Regions from separate parts of the Homo sapiens genome. Here all the other regions are linked to region 1. Evidence: fine-mapped expression QTL. A gene starts in region 1. Each other region holds a variant in brackets. All regions are shown on one strand. Distances are from middle to middle.

Evidence for each region. PIP is the estimated chance that this variant, and not a neighbour inherited with it, causes the effect.
Region 2: its variant is the best candidate, but not a certain one, in a credible set for the expression of SLC26A11 in whole blood (TOPMed, PIP 0.86).
Region 3: its variant is the best candidate, but not a certain one, in a credible set for the expression of SLC26A11 in whole blood (TOPMed, PIP 0.60).

The regions. Positions count from the first base shown.
Region 1 is chr17:80,217,384-80,222,628 of GRCh38, forward strand. It overlaps SLC26A11 (solute carrier family 26 member 11), which reads left to right and starts at 3,044. Exons shown (of 18, transcript NM_001166347.2): 1 at 3,044-3,113; 2 at 3,533-3,732; 3 at 4,165-4,411. The coding sequence starts at 4,178. It overlaps SGSH (N-sulfoglucosamine sulfohydrolase), which reads right to left and starts at 2,950. Exons shown (of 8, transcript NM_000199.5): 1 at 2,843-2,950. The coding sequence starts at 2,930. RefSeq lists enhancers at 1,992-2,111, 4,769-5,245 and silencers at 2,912-3,181, 3,202-3,271.
Region 2 is chr17:80,309,970-80,315,263 of GRCh38, forward strand. RNF213 (ring finger protein 213) reads left to right here. Exons shown (of 68, transcript NM_001256071.3): 15 at 3,043-3,198. Among named protein-coding and RNA genes, the nearest start is that of RNF213, 52 kb to the left of the region's middle. The variant C/T (reference allele first, on the strand shown) is at 2,408.
Region 3 is chr17:80,249,771-80,255,064 of GRCh38, forward strand. SLC26A11 (solute carrier family 26 member 11) reads left to right here. Exons shown (of 18, transcript NM_001166347.2): 17 at 1,559-1,631; 18 at 2,855-3,730. The coding sequence ends at 2,946. Among named protein-coding and RNA genes, the nearest start is that of RNF213, 8.4 kb to the right of the region's middle. RefSeq lists enhancers at 3,739-4,455, 4,929-5,294, 5,139-5,188, 5,219-5,268 and cis regulatory regions at 4,891-5,294, 4,907-5,294. The variant T/C (reference allele first, on the strand shown) is at 2,763.

The DNA of each region.
Region 1 (5,245 bases):
CGAGTGGGTACATCAGGCAAGCATGGTATCAGAGGGCATGTTAGCAGGTCTCATACTTGGTGGGTATGTTAGCAGGCAGGCATGTATCCAGAAGACCCCATACCCACTGGGTATGTTAGCAAGAAGGCATGGTACCTAGTAGGCACAATACCTGGTGGGTATATCAGCAAGCAGGCAGGGTGCCCAGGCAGGCCTGATACCCAGTGGGTATGTTGGCAGGTGAGCATGGTATGGAGGCTGGACTGATTGATAGATGGTGGGTATGTTGGCAGGTGAGCATGGTATGGAGGCTGGACTGATAGATGGTGGGTATAAGCAGGTAGGCATGGTACCCAGGCAGGCCTGATACCAGTGGGTATGTTAGCAGGTAGACTGGTATCCAGCAGGGATGATGCGTGGTTGGTATGTTAGCAGGCAGGCATGGTATCCAAGTGGGCATGATAAGCAGGCATCATACCACAATAAGCTTGATGATACCCTAAGCAGGCATGATACCCGGTGGGTATGTTGGCAGGTGGGCATGGTACACAGGCTGGACTGATAGCTGGTGGGTATAAGCAGATGGGCATGGTACCCAGGCAAGCCTGGTACCTGCATAGGCATGTTAGCAGGCAGGCATGGTACCCAAGTGGGCAAGATACTCATGCAGGCATGATGACCCAACAAGCTTGATGATACCCCAGCAGGCATGCTACCTGGGTGGGCGTGTTAGCCGGCTAGGCATTTAGGCAGACAGCGGCTGAGCGCATGGCCACAGAACTGCTGGGCAATTCTGGGCTCAGCGGAAACCGCATGGGGCAGAGGGCAGGAGAGCCTCGCCCAGGGCGCGTCTAAAGCTCTATGTGTGTGCGTCCCACCGCTGCTTCTCACTGATGCCATCTCAAAGGCCTAGTGACCTTGCAGGTTGTCTATTTCAACCCTTTCATCCTACACAAAGCAGCTGAGGCCCAGAAAGGTGAGGTGCAGTGCCCAGGGCCACACACTGGGCAGCAGGAAACAGGGACAGGCCGCTGAACTCCTACAACCACACCAAGCTTCTTCCCCCTGCTCTGGAGTAGAGGACACTGGGGGCACCACAGGAGAGGCTGGTGGGAACCCCCAGACCAACACTTTCCCCAGCTCCCTCAGAGGCAATGTGGTCCATGGATGGACAGAGGAGGCTGGGCACCTTCCAGTTGGGCTTCCATCCTCCACCCCACAGTACCCACAGGTGTGAGCACATGGCAGCCACGTAAACCTGGAGGGAGAGCGGGATGGGCTGTGCTCCGTACCCGCAGGCCAGGAAGAAAGCTGCCCTTCTCCAAACCCAGAGTGTCTCGGCACTTGGCTGTGGGCCTGCTATGGTCTGAACTGTGTCCTCCCAGAATTCATATGCTGAAGCCCTAACGTCAACATCACTGTATCTGGAGACAGGGTCCTTAATTAAGGGTAAATGAATCATAAGGATGAGATCCTGATCTGACAGGACTGTGGACTTAAAGGAAAAGAAAGAGAGGGCCGGGTGCAGTGTTTCATGCCCGTAAGCCCAGCACCCGGGAGGCCAAGGCAGGAAGATTGCTTGAGCCCAGGAGTTCGAGACCAGTCTGGGCAACACAGTGAGACCTTGTCTCTACAAAAAATACAAAAATTAGCCAGGCATGGTGATGTGCACTTGAGGTCCCAGCTACTTGGGAGGCTGAGGCAGGAGGATCGCTTGAGCCTGGGAGATTGAGGCTGCAGTGAGCTGTGATTGTGCTACTGTGCTCCAGCCTGGGTGACAGAGTGAGACCCTGTCTCACAAAAAAAAAAAAAAAAAAAAAAAAAGGAAAGAAAGGAAAAAGAAAGGAAAAGGAAGTGAGACCACCCCCATCCGCTTGTCATGTGAGGAAACAGTGAGAGGGTGACCACCTGTAAGCCGAAAGTGGACCCTCACTGGAACCCAACCAAGCTGGCACCCTGACCTTGGATTTTCAGCCCACAGAACTGTGAGAAATACATTTCTGTTTAAGCCGATCCATGGCAGTCCGTGCTAAGAAAGGCCCTAGCCCAGGGGCCGCATAGCCTGGACTCTGACAGCCTCCTGTAGGAATTCTGATCCGCAGGTGAGGGTCCATGCAGATTCTCTGCTGTGTTTCTGGGAGGCGAGGAGTTGGCAGGAGAGCTGTTTATGTTACAGTGAGCCGAACCCCCGCCCAGAGACCACAAAATTAATCAGAAAGAGGGCAACTGGCAGGGCGCCAGACCTCAGAAGGGGAAAGAATCGCAGGCCTTGGGTTTGGCCTTGTCACTTGTCATGAGCCAGAGCCTTGATTACCTAAACCGGAAGTCTTGTGAGCAGCACGGTGCTTGCTCTGGAGGAACCTGGGGTTTCTGAGAGGGACTGGGGTTGGGGGAGACGGTGGTGGGTGGGTGGTGGAGGGCTGTGCCCTTGGGATAAGGGAAAAGACAGCTGAGACACAGGCTCTGGGGTCGGAAATGAGAGCCAGGAGGGCACCCTGTCTGCAGTCTCTGGGGACCGGAGCACCAGCCCCTCCTCTGGGATCCCCTCCCAAGAGGGATTTGAGATCCGTGGACCCCTGAGCCCTGGCTGGGCAGGGTCAGAGGAGGGTGGGACAGGCGGCACGAGGTAAGTGTAGGGGTGCTGGATGCTGGGGCTCACTCCTCCAGCCTTTGCTGCCCTCTCTGGGGAGACACCCGTGAAGAGTCTGGGGGCGGCACAGAGAGGAGGACGAGAGGGAATGGCAGCGGGGGATACAAGGGCAGGGCACACTAGGGTCAGCATTGACCACGGGTGGGGAGGAGGCCAGTGGCCACTTCCCCGGGCCACCGCAGGTGGGCGTGGGGGGGCGGCGCCGGCACTCACCGAGGAGCAGCAGTGCGTTCCGGGGACGCGCCCGGCAGAGCCCCAGGACTAGCAGCAGCGCGCAGCAGGCGGGCACGGGGCAGCTCATGGCGGCGGCGGCTCGGACTCGGGATCGGGATCCGGCTCCGGCTCTCTGGTCTCCCGCTCGGCCCCGCCCCCTGCCCCGACCCCGGTCACGTGCGCGCCAGACCCCGCCCCGGCCTGTCCCCGGCGATTCCTGCGGACCCAGCTGCGGCGACGCCAGGAGACCCCAAGCTGCATCGCCGAGTGGGTGAGTCCGTGGCCCGCGAGGGCGGCGAGCGGGGACCAGGGGCAGGGGGAGCGGACAGTGGCCGGGGTCGCCGGGGGCAGCCGACGCGGGGGCCAGCGCGGAGTCCTGAAGTGCGGGGGCCTCCCGTGGGGACCACTCCCCCGCCGCGTCCCTACCCGGGTCCCCGCGGCCCTCGGCCTTGCTCGGGGCCAAGGGACCGCGGACGGTCAGGTGGCGCAGGGTCTCCTCCGGAGACCCCAGGATCCGGAGCCAGCGGCCTTGTGGGCGGGGCCGGGGGCCGGGGAGTGGATTTTGCCCGGAGCGGAGCGGCCGGGGGCGTGGGGGGCTGGGGGTGAGGGTGGCGGCTCTGCGCGCGGGCGCCGGGGCCCTGGAAGATGCTGCGCACCTGAATTAACCGGGCGCCTCTGATGTCCTCCCAGAAGCAACTAGAACTCCAGGGCTGTGAAAGCCACAGGTGGGGGCTGAGCGAGGCGTGGCCTCAGGAGCGGAGGACCCCCCCACTCTCCCTCGAGCGCCGCAGTCCACCGTAGCGGGTGGAGCCCGCCTTGGTGCGCAGTTGGAAAACCTCGGAGCCCCGCTGGATCTCCTGGCTGCCACCCGCACCCCCCGCCAGCCTACGGTGCGCCCGCGGGCCCAGCTTCTCTCTGCGCTGCTCCCCGTTAAATTCCCTGGGGAGACGGAAAAAAAGGCAAAGGAAGTCGGTTCTCCAGGGGCCAGAAGTGTTGAGCCTAATTAGTCTTCAGACTTCTCAATGAGGAATCGCTTATCAGTTTCTTATCTGGGAGAGTTGAGGATGGAGGGACAGAAGGCACCCAGGATTTGCACGGGGGGGATTCAGGGAGAGAGGGTGATGAGGGACGGGGTGGGCCTTCCAGTCTTGGCCCAGTCCCCATCTTGCACACATTGTTGGCTTCCTCTTAGAGCCGTTCGCCCCCCTGGGGAGGGGAGACCCATAGTGACCTCTCCTGACACCCGCCGACCCTGACCAGTGTTGCCGGGTTCTTCAAAGGCCACGCTCTGACTGCTGGTCTGTGTCACCTGCACCCCCCAGCCCCACCGTAGAGATGCCTTCTTCGGTGACGGCGCTGGGTCAGGCCAGGTCCTCTGGCCCCGGGATGGCCCCGAGCGCCTGCTGCTGCTCCCCTGCGGCCCTGCAGAGGAGGCTGCCCATCCTGGCGTGGCTGCCCAGCTACTCCCTGCAGTGGCTGAAGATGGATTTCGTCGCCGGCCTCTCAGTTGGCCTCACTGCCATTCCCCAGGCGCTGGCCTATGCTGAAGTGGCTGGACTCCCGCCCCAGGTGAGGCGTCTGACCCTGCTGCCAGCCATATCTCAGAAACAGTGCAGAATACACAGTATCAATCCCAGACACCATCAGCGATTCCAGGTTTCCAGCCCCTGGGCCCCAAGGAACCTTTGGTTTACAGTGTGTGACGCAGATTGTCTCTGGGCCGACCCAGGCTCCTATGCCTGTTTGGCACACACAGACACTGAGCTGGTTATGGAGGGGCCAGCGAGATGACTCATGGAGGCCTCAGGAGTTCAAGACCAGCCCGACCAAAATGGTGAAACCCCGTCTCCACTAAAAATACAAAAATTAGGCTGGGTGCGGTGGCTCAAGCCTGTAATCCCAGCACTTTGGGAGGCCGAGGCAGGCGGATCGCAAGGTCAGGAGATGGAGACCATCCTGGCTAACAGGGTGAAACCCCGTCTCTACTAAAAATACAAAAAATTAGCCAGGTGTGGTGGCGGGTGCCTGTAGTCCCAGCTACCTGGGAGGCTGAGGCAGGAGAATGGCGTGAACCCGGGAGGCGGAGCTTGCAGTGAGCCGAGACTGTGCCACTGCCCTCCAGCCTGGGCGACAGAGCGAGACTCCATCTCAAAAAAAAAAAAAAAGAATGCTTCCTCAGACTTGGACACAGCACACGGGCCTGCACCGACCCCTCTGCCTGGCTGTCTGCACCCTGAGGCCCCAGTTGAGTGCTGCTAAAAAAGTGGCCTCCTGATCACTGCAGGTCCACCCACAGGGCAGGGCGGTGCACCTTTAACCTGGGCCTGGACACAGCTGACACCCACACATCCCGAGCTTGGACACGCACACTAGGGAGCTGGTGGATGGGCCTCGGCCTCCTGA
Region 2 (5,294 bases), 93 kb after region 1:
GGTCTCGATCTCATGACCTCATGATCCGCCTGCCTTGGCCTCCAAAGTGCTGGGATTACAGGCTTAAACCACCACGCCCAGCCTCCCATGGATCAGTTTTACCTGTCTTCCAGCTTTGACCTTTCTGCCTCCGACTTTCCCCACTCACCCCCATGTCTCTGAGCTCTGTCTGTGTGGTGCAGAGATCGGCAATTCCTTCTTTCCCGTCTCTGTGCAGTTTTCACCCACTTGAGTTCATGAGTTTCAGTTTGAAAGTGATGTAAGGTTTAATGTTTAGACTGATCATTTGTTTGTTTTTTTGAGATGGAGTTTTGCTCTTGTTGCCCAGGCTGGAGTGTAGTGGCGCCATCTCAGCTCACTGCAATCTCCGCCTCCTAGGTTCAAGTGATTCTCCTGCCTCAGCCTCCCAAGTGGCTGGGACTACAGGTGTGCACCACCACACCCAGCTAATTTTTGTATTTTTAGTAGAGACAGGGTTTCACCATGTTGGCCAAGCTGGTCTCAAACGCCTGACCTCACGTGATCCACCTGCCTTGGCCTCCCAGAGTGCTGGGATTGCCGATGTGAGCCACTGCACCCAGCACAATTTTTTTTTTTTTTGAGACAGAGTTTCACTCTTGTTGCCCAGGCTGTAGTGCAATGGCGTGATCTCGGCTCACCACAACCTCCGCCTCCTGGGTTCAAGTGATTCTCCTGCCTCAGCCTCCCGAGTAGCTGGGATTACAGGCATGTGCCACTAAACCCAGCTAATTCTGTATTTTTAGTCGAGACAGGATTTCTACATGTTGGTCAGGCTGGCCTTGAACTCCTGACCTCAGGTGATTCGCCTGCCTCAGCCTCCCAAAGTGCTAGGATTACAGGCATGAGCTACTGCACCCGGCTGATCATTTTTTTTAATCTTACTTCAAGTTAGAACTGTGACGTTAGTGATAGAAAACAATTAAGTGTATGTTTTAACTTTCTTCCTTTCAGTTTTCTTGTGTTAAAGTACCACAGACACAGTTTAAGAATAAATGTCATTGGTGAGATGATCACGTTCTCTGGAGTGGCTGCTATTTAAACCGCCACAGGCAGCTGCCAACTTCCACATAAACTGTGTTTAAGGAATTTGTCAGTTACTTAGGATTTATTTTCTACAGAAATAACTATCTTAAATGTTGGCTGGGATCTCAGATAAGTTTAATCCATATTATGGACAAAATACTCTCTACCTGTGCCATAAAAGCAAACAAACAAACAAAAAACCTTTGCAATACTAAAATTAAACAAAGCAAAAATACGTGACGCATGTTGAAGAAACTTTTAGGTGTCTGCTGCTGTGAAGGCTCCAGGGTTGACGGACACTTGGAGAACAAGGTGCCCGTGTCAGGCTCCGGAGGTCTGTGCAGCCTCTGAGCGGTCATTCAGTTTGTTGTTATTGGCCATCGCTGTCCAGCCCTGTGCTGCTGGATTGTTCTAGAAGGAGCTGTGCCATTGGGGGGACCTTCAGCAGTGCCTGTTTCGTTTTCTGTCGGCCCCCGCCCCCTGCGTGCTGTGCTCTAGTCACTCCTGTGCCCAGCCCCCTCTGCGGGCTCTCTTTCACAGCAGCACCTGCATCCTGGTCCCTCTTACATGCTTTGAAAGCTCCTGCCTGTATCTTCCCGCCCTGGCCCTTCCCAGGTATAGTGACGCTGTGTTCCCCTGCCTGCTGTGGGCTTTTCCTCTCTCCCACTCTCGGGCAGCCCCGCCCAGCAGCAGCCTTGTCCTCTTGCCCAGCTGCCTCGAGGCGTGGGCCTCTCGGTGCTTCCAGTGAGCACCTGAGCGTATCCAGGTTCTGTGGCTCCTGACACTTGCACGATGTGCGGGGCTGTGCTTAAAAAAAAAGATCACACACTTGGCTGGGTGTAGTAGCTCACACCTGTAATCCCAGCACTTTGGAAGGCCAAAGCAGGCAGATAACCAGAGGTTAGGAGTTCGAGACCAGCCTGGCCAACATGGTGAAACCCTGTCTCTACTAAAAAATACAAAAATTAGCCAGGTATGGTGGCATGCACTTGTAATCCCAGCTACTTGGGAGGCTGAAGCAGGAGGATCACTTGAACCCAGGAGGTGGAGGTTGCAGTGAGCCAAGATCGCGCCACTGTACTCCAGCCTGGGTTACAGAGTGAGACTCTGTCTCAAAAAAAAGAAAAAAAAGAAAAAGAAAAGAAAAAGACCACACATTAATCCAGGACTGTGGGGCTCCTCCCAGGAGGAGGTGGCCCTGACCCCTGACCTGTATGCTTCCTGGGAAATGTGCTTCTGGGGAGGACAGAGGGAGGAGGAAGGAGAGGGAGGAAGAGGAAGGCAGGGGAGAGAAGGGAGGCATTACAGGAGGCTTTGAGCCCAGGGGAAGAGGGGTTTTCCCTCTGGTCTGGTGGGTCCGGCA[C/T]GGAGGCGGGGGGAGAGCATGATGGGAGCACAGTGGGAAGGGGACCCAGGTTTACCTCCGGGTCAGGAGCCTGGCTGTGGTCTGGCATGGAGGCAGGGGGAGGGCATGATGGGAGCACAGTGGGAAGGGGACCCAGGTTTACCTCCGGGTCAGGAGCCTGGCTGTGGTCTGGCATGGAGGCAGGGGGAGGGCATGATGGGAGCACAGTGGGAAGGGGACCCAGGTTTACCTCCGGGTCAGGAGCCTGGCTGTCTCCTGTGTCTAAGGAACAGGCCCGGGAGTCTGCAGGGCCCCTCTCTGGGGCGTGCTTTTCCCCCTCAGTCTCCTGGGCACAGCCTGGGGACCTGCTCATTGGCAGGACAGAGGCTGCCTGGGCTTTCGGGGGAGCACACAGATGCCGTTCCCTCCCTCCCTCTTTTCTCCCGTATCTCCCACGTTCAGGGTGAACCCAGAAAACCCTGGGGAATGGAAGTGCTTTGGGAATGTGGGCTTCTGCCAAGGCCTGTGGTCCCTCCATCGTAGCCACTCCTTGAGCAGCCTGTGCCAGCAGGGAGGAGAGGAGGGGGTGCAGCATCTCGCCGGGAACCTGAGTCCACAGCCGAGGATGACTGACCCTCCCTCTTGTGTGACAACAGGATTCTGCAGGACAGAGAGATGAAACTGGAAATAATTCAGTCCAAACAGTCTTCCAAGGGACCCTTGCTGCTACGAAAAGGTGGCTCCGAGAAGTTTTTACAAAGAACATGCTCACATCTTCAGGTGCCTCATTCACATACGTCAAGGAAATTGAGGTAGGCATTTGGCCGAAGGCTTCTGGGTAGGGATGTGACTGATCGTGATTCCTCATGGCCTCAAATCATGGGGTACAGGCTGCTGGCCAGGGGCAGTTGTTGGCCTTCACCTGAGCCTCAGTTCTTCATCTACAAAATGGAGTTGCTCCTGTCTACCTGGCAGGGTGGCTCTGAGGCAGACAGATGCCGGGTGCAAAGTGCTGCTGCACTGCCTCGTGTCCCCTGGCCGGGCACAGTCCCTGTGGTGATGGAGGTGTGGAGGTGATGGTGATGGTTGGTGGTGGTGGTGGTAGAGGTGATGGTGGTGGAGGTGATGGTGATGGTTGGTGGTGGTGGTGGTAGAGGTGATGGTGGTGAAGGTGATGGTGATGGTGGACGTAATGGAGGTGATGGTGGTGATGGTGGTCATGGAGGTGGTGGAGGTGATGGTGGTGGTGGAGGTGATGGTGATTGTGGTGGAGGTGATGGTGGTGATGGTGATGGTTGTGGAGGTGATGGTGGAGGTAATGGAGGTGATGGTGGTGGTGAAGGGGATGGTGGTGATGGAGGTGGTGGTGGTGGAGGTGACAATGGTGATGCTGGTGGTGGAGGTGGTGGAGGTACTGGAGGTGATGGTGGTGGTGAAGGTGATGGTGGAGGTAATGGAGGTGATGGTGGTGGTGGAGGTGATGGTGGAGGTACTGGAGGTGATGGTGGTGGTGAAGGTGATGGTGGAGGTACTGGAGGTGATGGTGGTGGTGGTGGTGATGGTGGAGGTGGTGGAGGTAATGGAGGTGATGGTGGTGGTGGAGGTGATGGTGGAGGTACTGGAGGTGATGGTGGTGGTGAAGGTGATGGTGGAGGTAATGGAGGTGATGGTGGTGGTGGTGGTGATGGTGGAGGTGGTGGAGGTAATGGAGGTGATGGTGGTGGTGGAGGTGATGGTGGAGGTACTGGAGGTGATGGTGGTGGTGAAGGTGATGGTGGAGGTACTGGAGGTGATGGTGGTGGTGTAGGTGATGGTGGAGGTGATGGTGGTGGTGAAGGTGATGGTGGAGGTAATGGAGGTGATGGTGGTGGTGAAGGTGATGGTGGAGGTACTGGAGGTGATGGTGGTAAAGGTGATGGTGGAGGTACTGGAGGTGATGGTGGTGGACGTGATGGTGGAGGTAATGGAGGTGATGGTGGTGGTGGTGGTGGTGGAGGTACTGGAGGTGATGGCGGTCGTGGAGGTGATGGTGGAGGTAATGGAGGTGGTGGTGGTGGTGGTGGTGGAGGTACTGGAGGTGATGGTGGAGGTAATGGAGGTGATGGTGGTGATGGTGATGGTGGAGGTACTGGAGGTGATGGTGGTGGTGGTGGAGGTAATGGAGGTGATGGTGGTGGTGAAGGTGATGGTGGAGGTAATGGAGGTGATGGTGGTGGTGGTGGTGGTGGTGGAGGTAATGGAGGTGATGGTGGTGGTGGTGGTGGTGGTGGAGGTACTGGAGGTGATGGCGGTCGTGGAGGTGATGGTGGAGGTAATGGAGGTGGTGGTGGTGGTGGTGGTGGAGGTACTGGAGGTGATGGTGGAGGTAATGGAGGTGATGGTGGTGATGGTGATGGTGGAGGTACTGGAGGTGATGGTGGTGGTGGTGGAGGTAATGGAGGTGATGGTGGTGGTGAAGGTGATGGTGGAGGTAATGGAGGTGATGGTGGTGGTGGTGGTGGTGGTGGAGGTAATGGAGGTGATGGTGGTGGTGGAGGTGATGGTGGAGGTACTGGAGGTGATGGTGGTGGTGAAGGTGTTGGTGGAGGTACTGGAGGTGATGGTGGTCGTGTAGGTGATGGTGGAGGTGATGGTGGTGGTGAAGGTGATGGTGGAGGTACTGGAGGTGATGGTGGTGGTGAAGGTGATGGTGGAGGTAATGGAGGTGATGGTGGTGGTGAAGGTGATGGTGGAGGTAATGGAGGTGATGGTGGTAAAGGTGATGGTGGAGGTACTGGAGGTGATGGTGGTAAAGGTGATGGTGGAGGTAATGGAGGTGATGGTGGTGGACGTGATGGTGGAGGTAATGGAGGTGATGGTGGTGGTGGTGGTGGAGGTACTGGAGGTGATGGTGGTGGACGTGATGGTG
Region 3 (5,294 bases), 32 kb after region 1:
GTGGTGGCGAGCGCCTGTAATTCCAGCTACATGGGAGGCTGGGAGAATCGCTTGAACCTGGGAGGTGGAGGTTGCAGTAAGCCGAGATCCCACTACTGTACTCCAGCCTGGGCGACAGAGTGGGACTCCATCTCAAAAACAAACAAACGAAAAAAAACAGGTGCTCATAGAATTTCATGAAAAACGTATTGTCAGGGCTTCCAGAGGCTGAAGACGGGTTTCTATGGAGGCCGTCCTGTTCAGAGCCACAGGTAAAGTGTAAGGGCTGGGTCCCAGGCCCTGCGTCTTAGGCCTCACCTAGGAGCCTTCTGAGCACTGCAGGGTCAACATCCCAGGGGTGTGGCCAGTGTTTGCAGAGAGGCAGGGGTCTCTGTTGCTGTGGTTAAATGTGCGCTCTCTGCCAAGTCCTAGATGGCAGAACGTGGGGGACTAGGGCGTGTCCCCAGGCGCCCAGAGGAGACATTCATGAACTAGCCATGGAACAGGAGGCCAAGTGACCCGTATACCCCAGGTGTGGACCACAGCCGACCCTTGTCAGAGTTTCCTTCATTCCCAACCTGGCCCACGAGGCTAGTGTTATCTTCATCCCCATGTCCAGAAGAGGTCACTGAGGCCCAGAGAAGCCAGGTAATCTGCCCACGGTCACACAGGATGGTGGGCCCGGCTTCAGATTTGGGCATGTGCCTTCAGAACTTCGCTCATAAGTGTTACGTCCTGTGTCATATTTGCAGAGCACATGTCTTCATGGTCTTTGGAGATGATTCACTTAAAAAAATACTCCTCTGACCCAGACATGGTGGCTCACACCTGTAATCCCAGCACTTTGAGAGGCCGAGGCGGGAGGTCAAGGGTTTGAGACCAGCCTGGCCAACATAGTGAAACTCCGTCTCTACTAAAAATACAAAAATTAGACGGGCATGGTGGCGCACGCCTGTAATCCCAGCTGCTCAGGGGGCTGAGGCAGGAGAATCGCTTGAACCCGGGAGGCAGAGGTTGCAGTGAGCCGAGATCGCGCCATTGCACTCCAGCCTGGGTAACAAGAGTGAAACTCCATCTCAAAAACAAACAAACAAACAAAAAGTCCTCTGGGCCAGGCGCTGTGGCTCACACCTGTAATCCCAGCACTTTGGGAGGCCGAGGTAGGAGGATCATTTGAGGCCAGGAGTTTGAGACCAGCCTGGGCAACATGACGAAACCCCATCAAAAAAATAGGAAAAAATAGCTGGACGTGGTGGCGTGCACCTGTAGCTACTCAGGAGGCTGAGGTGGGAGGATCACTTGAGTCTGGGAGGTTGAGGCTGCAGTGAGCCATGATCGTGCCACTGCACTCCAGCCTGAGCAATGAGCAAGACCCTGTCTCAAAAAACAAAAAATTAAAAAAAAAAAAATCTTCCTCTGACAGCATTCCCCTGGGGCTGCGTTTCTTCTCACCATTCACTGGTATGGAGGTGAAGCCATACCTCTCCGGGAGACTCTGAGATGGCAGGTCTACCAGGCTGCCGACCCGTGTGCTACAGAGGAACATCCCTGCCCTGGCTAAAGTCTGTCTGTCTCTCAGGTCCCCGTTCTCCGTGTCCTGCTGTCCGCTGACCTGAAGGGGTTCCAGTACTTCTCTACCCTGGAAGAAGCAGGTGGGCACAGTCAGACATCCTGTGGCTTTGGTGATTTTGTAAAAATCATAAATGCTTATTGTAAAAAATATGGGAAACCAGCTGGGCACAGTGGCTCATGCCTGTAATCCCAGCACTTTGGGAGGCCGAGGCAGGTGGATCACCTGAGGTCAGGAGTTCGAGACCAGCCTGGCCAACATGGTAAAACCTCATCAGTACTAAAAATACAAAAATTAGCTGGGTGTGGTGGCATGCACCTCTAGTCCCAGCTATTCGGGAGGCTGAAGCAGGAGAATCGCTTGAACCCAGGAGGCAGAGGTTGTACTGAGCCGAGATTGTGCCACTGCACTCCAGCCTGGGTGAGAGAGCGAGACTCTGTCTCAAAAAAAAAAAAAACAAAAAAAACAGGAAACCACCTCCACCCCAGTCCACTTTGGTGATCACTCCATACCCCTCCCCTAAACACGCATATGTACCTGCCTGTCAGGATGTGGATATATGTTTGCGGTTTTACGTAAATGGGACCATTTCATACCTGGTGCTCTGGAACCCACATTTTTCATGCAGAAGGTTGGAAGGATGTCCTTCCAGCCGAAAGTCCACATCCCGGGGGATCAGGACAGAGCAGGGCCGGGTCAGGAGATCCAGAAGCCCCGGGACAGAAGGTACGGGAGGGACAGGAGCAGGGTGGGCGCTGACCCTTGAGACAGCAATCGCAGGAGGTCTGAGCCGCAGCAGGTGTCAACAAGAGGATGGGCCAGAGATGCAGAGCATCCACCCCAGGCCACACAGCAGTGGCCAGAGGGTCCCAGGCCCCAGTGCTAGGCCTCTTCCTCTTCCACTGAGGTCACAGCTGAAGCTGGGTCAGCTCCGTGAGAGTGAGGGGTGGCGGATGTTGTACTGACTTCCTTGGCTCAATGTGACGTCAGGGAGATTCACCCATGTTGTTGTAGAATCAGCTCAGATGCAGTGCACTGGAGGTGGATAAGCAGAATGTGGCCTGGCCGTGGGATGGGAGGGTACCCTGGAGCAGTAAGAAAGGGCCGTTAGTCACCTGAAAAATACGCTTACAGAGACTCAGGTGAGACCCTCATGGAGTTAGTGACACTGGCCTGGGTGGCCCACAGCTCCTTCCTGCACACCTTCCAGGAC[T/C]CTGGAAGGCCCTCCTTAATCCCTTCCTGTGAACTGACCCATCCTCACTTCTGAGCTTTTAGTGCTTGAAACATTTATTGTATTTTCTGCAGAGAAGCACCTGAGGCAGGAGCCAGGGACCCAGCCCTACAACATCAGAGAAGACTCCATTCTGGACCAAAAGGTTGCCCTGCTCAAGGCATAATGGGGCCACCCGTGGGCATCCACAGTTTGCAGGGTGTTCCGGAAGGTTCTTGTCACTGTGATTGGATGCTGGATGCCGCCTGATAGACATGCTGGCCTGGCTGAGAAACCCCTGAGCAGGTAACCCAGGGAAGAGAAGGAAGCCAGGCCTGGAGGTCCACGGCAGTGGGAGTGGGGCTCACTGGCTTCCTGTGGGATGACTGGAAAATGACCTCGCTGCTGTTCCCTGGCATGACCCTCTTTGGAAGAGTGGTTTGGAGAGAGCCTTCTAGAATGACAGACTGTGCGAGGAAGCAGGGGCAGGGGTTTCCAGCCCGGGCTGTGCGAGGCATCCTGGGGCTGGCAGCACCTTCCCGGCTCACCAGTGCCACCTGCGGGGGAGGGACGGGGCAGGCAGGAGTCTGGGAGGCGGGTCCGCTCCTCTTGTCTGCGGCATCTGTGCTCTCCGAGAGAAAACCAAGGTGTGTCAAATGACGTCAAGTCTCTATTTAAAAATAATTTTGTGTTTTCTAAATGGAAAAAGTGATAGCTTTGGTGATTTTGTAAAAGTCATAAATGCTTATTGTAAAAAATACAGGAAACCACCCCTCACCCTGTCCACTTGGGTGATCATTCCAGACCCCTCCCCAAACATGCATATGTACCTGTCCGTCAGTGTGTGGATGTATGTTTACAGTTCTACATAAATGGGATCATTTTATACATGGTGCTCTGGAACCCACATTTTTCATGCAGTCATTTGCAGTGAATTATTTATTGTGATAATAAATAGCATTAGAATACAAGATTTTTAATGTCTGCGTGGTATTTTGGTCTATATATGCATCATAATTGACTTACCGAGCCCTCTGTTCAACGTGTGCGTGGGTTAGAGACGGGATCGTGCCTCCTTTAGATGTGTCAGTTGAAGCCCTTGCCCTCTATGTGACTGCGTTTGGAAACAGGGCTTTTAGGGGGTAACTAGGTTTAATGAAGGTCATAAAGGTGGGCCCTGAACCGATAGCTTTAGTGTCCTCGTGAGAAGAGACGCCAGAGAGCTCGTTCTCTGCACCCTCACACCCCAGGGAACTCCATGAGAGGACACGGCAAAACCAGGCCATGCGCCCACCAGGAAGAAAGGCCTCATGAGGACCCCAGCCTCCAAAACTGGGAGAAGATGAATCTCTGTGCTAGGCCCCGCAGCCTGGGGTGATCTGTGACGGCGGCCTGAGCAGGTGAGGACTGCCTGCATGTTTGTATTTTTATGAATGCTTTGATTGAGTCTGGGGGTAAATCCCTGGAGGCCTGTGGCAGCCTCAGAGGTGTGTTCTCCCTGCACTTTCTTCAAGAAGAATGTGGCCTGCCCTACTGAGCCTCGTTCTGCCCGTTCTGCCCGGGCAGTCCCGGCCAATGTCAGCGCAGCAAGGGGAGGGCCTCTGTAACCAGGGCTGCTGGCTGCGGGGCTCCCCACTGGACACGGGAGTGGACATTGGAGTGTCCTTCATCCGCGTCACTCTTCCAGGTCCCTTGCCTCCTCCCATTTTCCTTCCTTCCTTTCCTTCCTTCCTTCCCTTCCTTTCCTTCCTTCCTTCCTTTCTTTCCTTCCTTCCTTCCTTTCCTCCCTTGCTCCCTTCCTTTTCTTTCTTCCTTCCGTTTTTCTTTCCTTTCTTCCTTCCTTTCATTTTTTTCTTCCCGTTCTCCCTTTCTTCCTCCCTCCACCCCTTTCTTCTCACTGTGTTCCCCAGGCTGGTCTTCAACTCCTGGGCTCAAGCAATCCTCTTGCCTCAGCCTCTGGTGTGGCTGGGACCACAGACACATGCCACCGCGCCAGGCTAATTTGTTAATTGTTTTTATAGAGACAGGGTCTCACTTTGTTTCCCAGGCTCGTCTCAAACTCCTGGGCTCAAGTGATACTCCAGCTTCAGCCTGAAGTGCTGGAATTAAGGTGTGAGCCACCATGCCTGGCCCTCTCTCATTCACAAGTGAACCATTCACCCCTGCCCTCCAATCCATGTCGTTTCTGACCTCAGGCAGCTTCTCTTTCTACATAAAGTGAACCTGTCCCAAAGCTGTGCTCACTGGGCCCCCCTGCCAGGGCTGGAAGAGGCAGCAGTTCACATTTGGCTTGCACTCACATACCAAGGGCATCCATGCTTGAACCTAGACATGGTTCATTCACAGGGATGGGTGAAGGTAAACAGACTGTGGCGGGCACTAGGCACTATCAGTTTCATAAATCTGCATACCACCTGTGACTCAGCAGTTATGCTTCTCGGAATCTACTCAAACATGCTTGAGTCAGCCTTCCAGGAAGCAGGCACAAGGACGTTTGTGACAACTTGGTCAGTAATTTTAAGAAGTAGGAAGAAA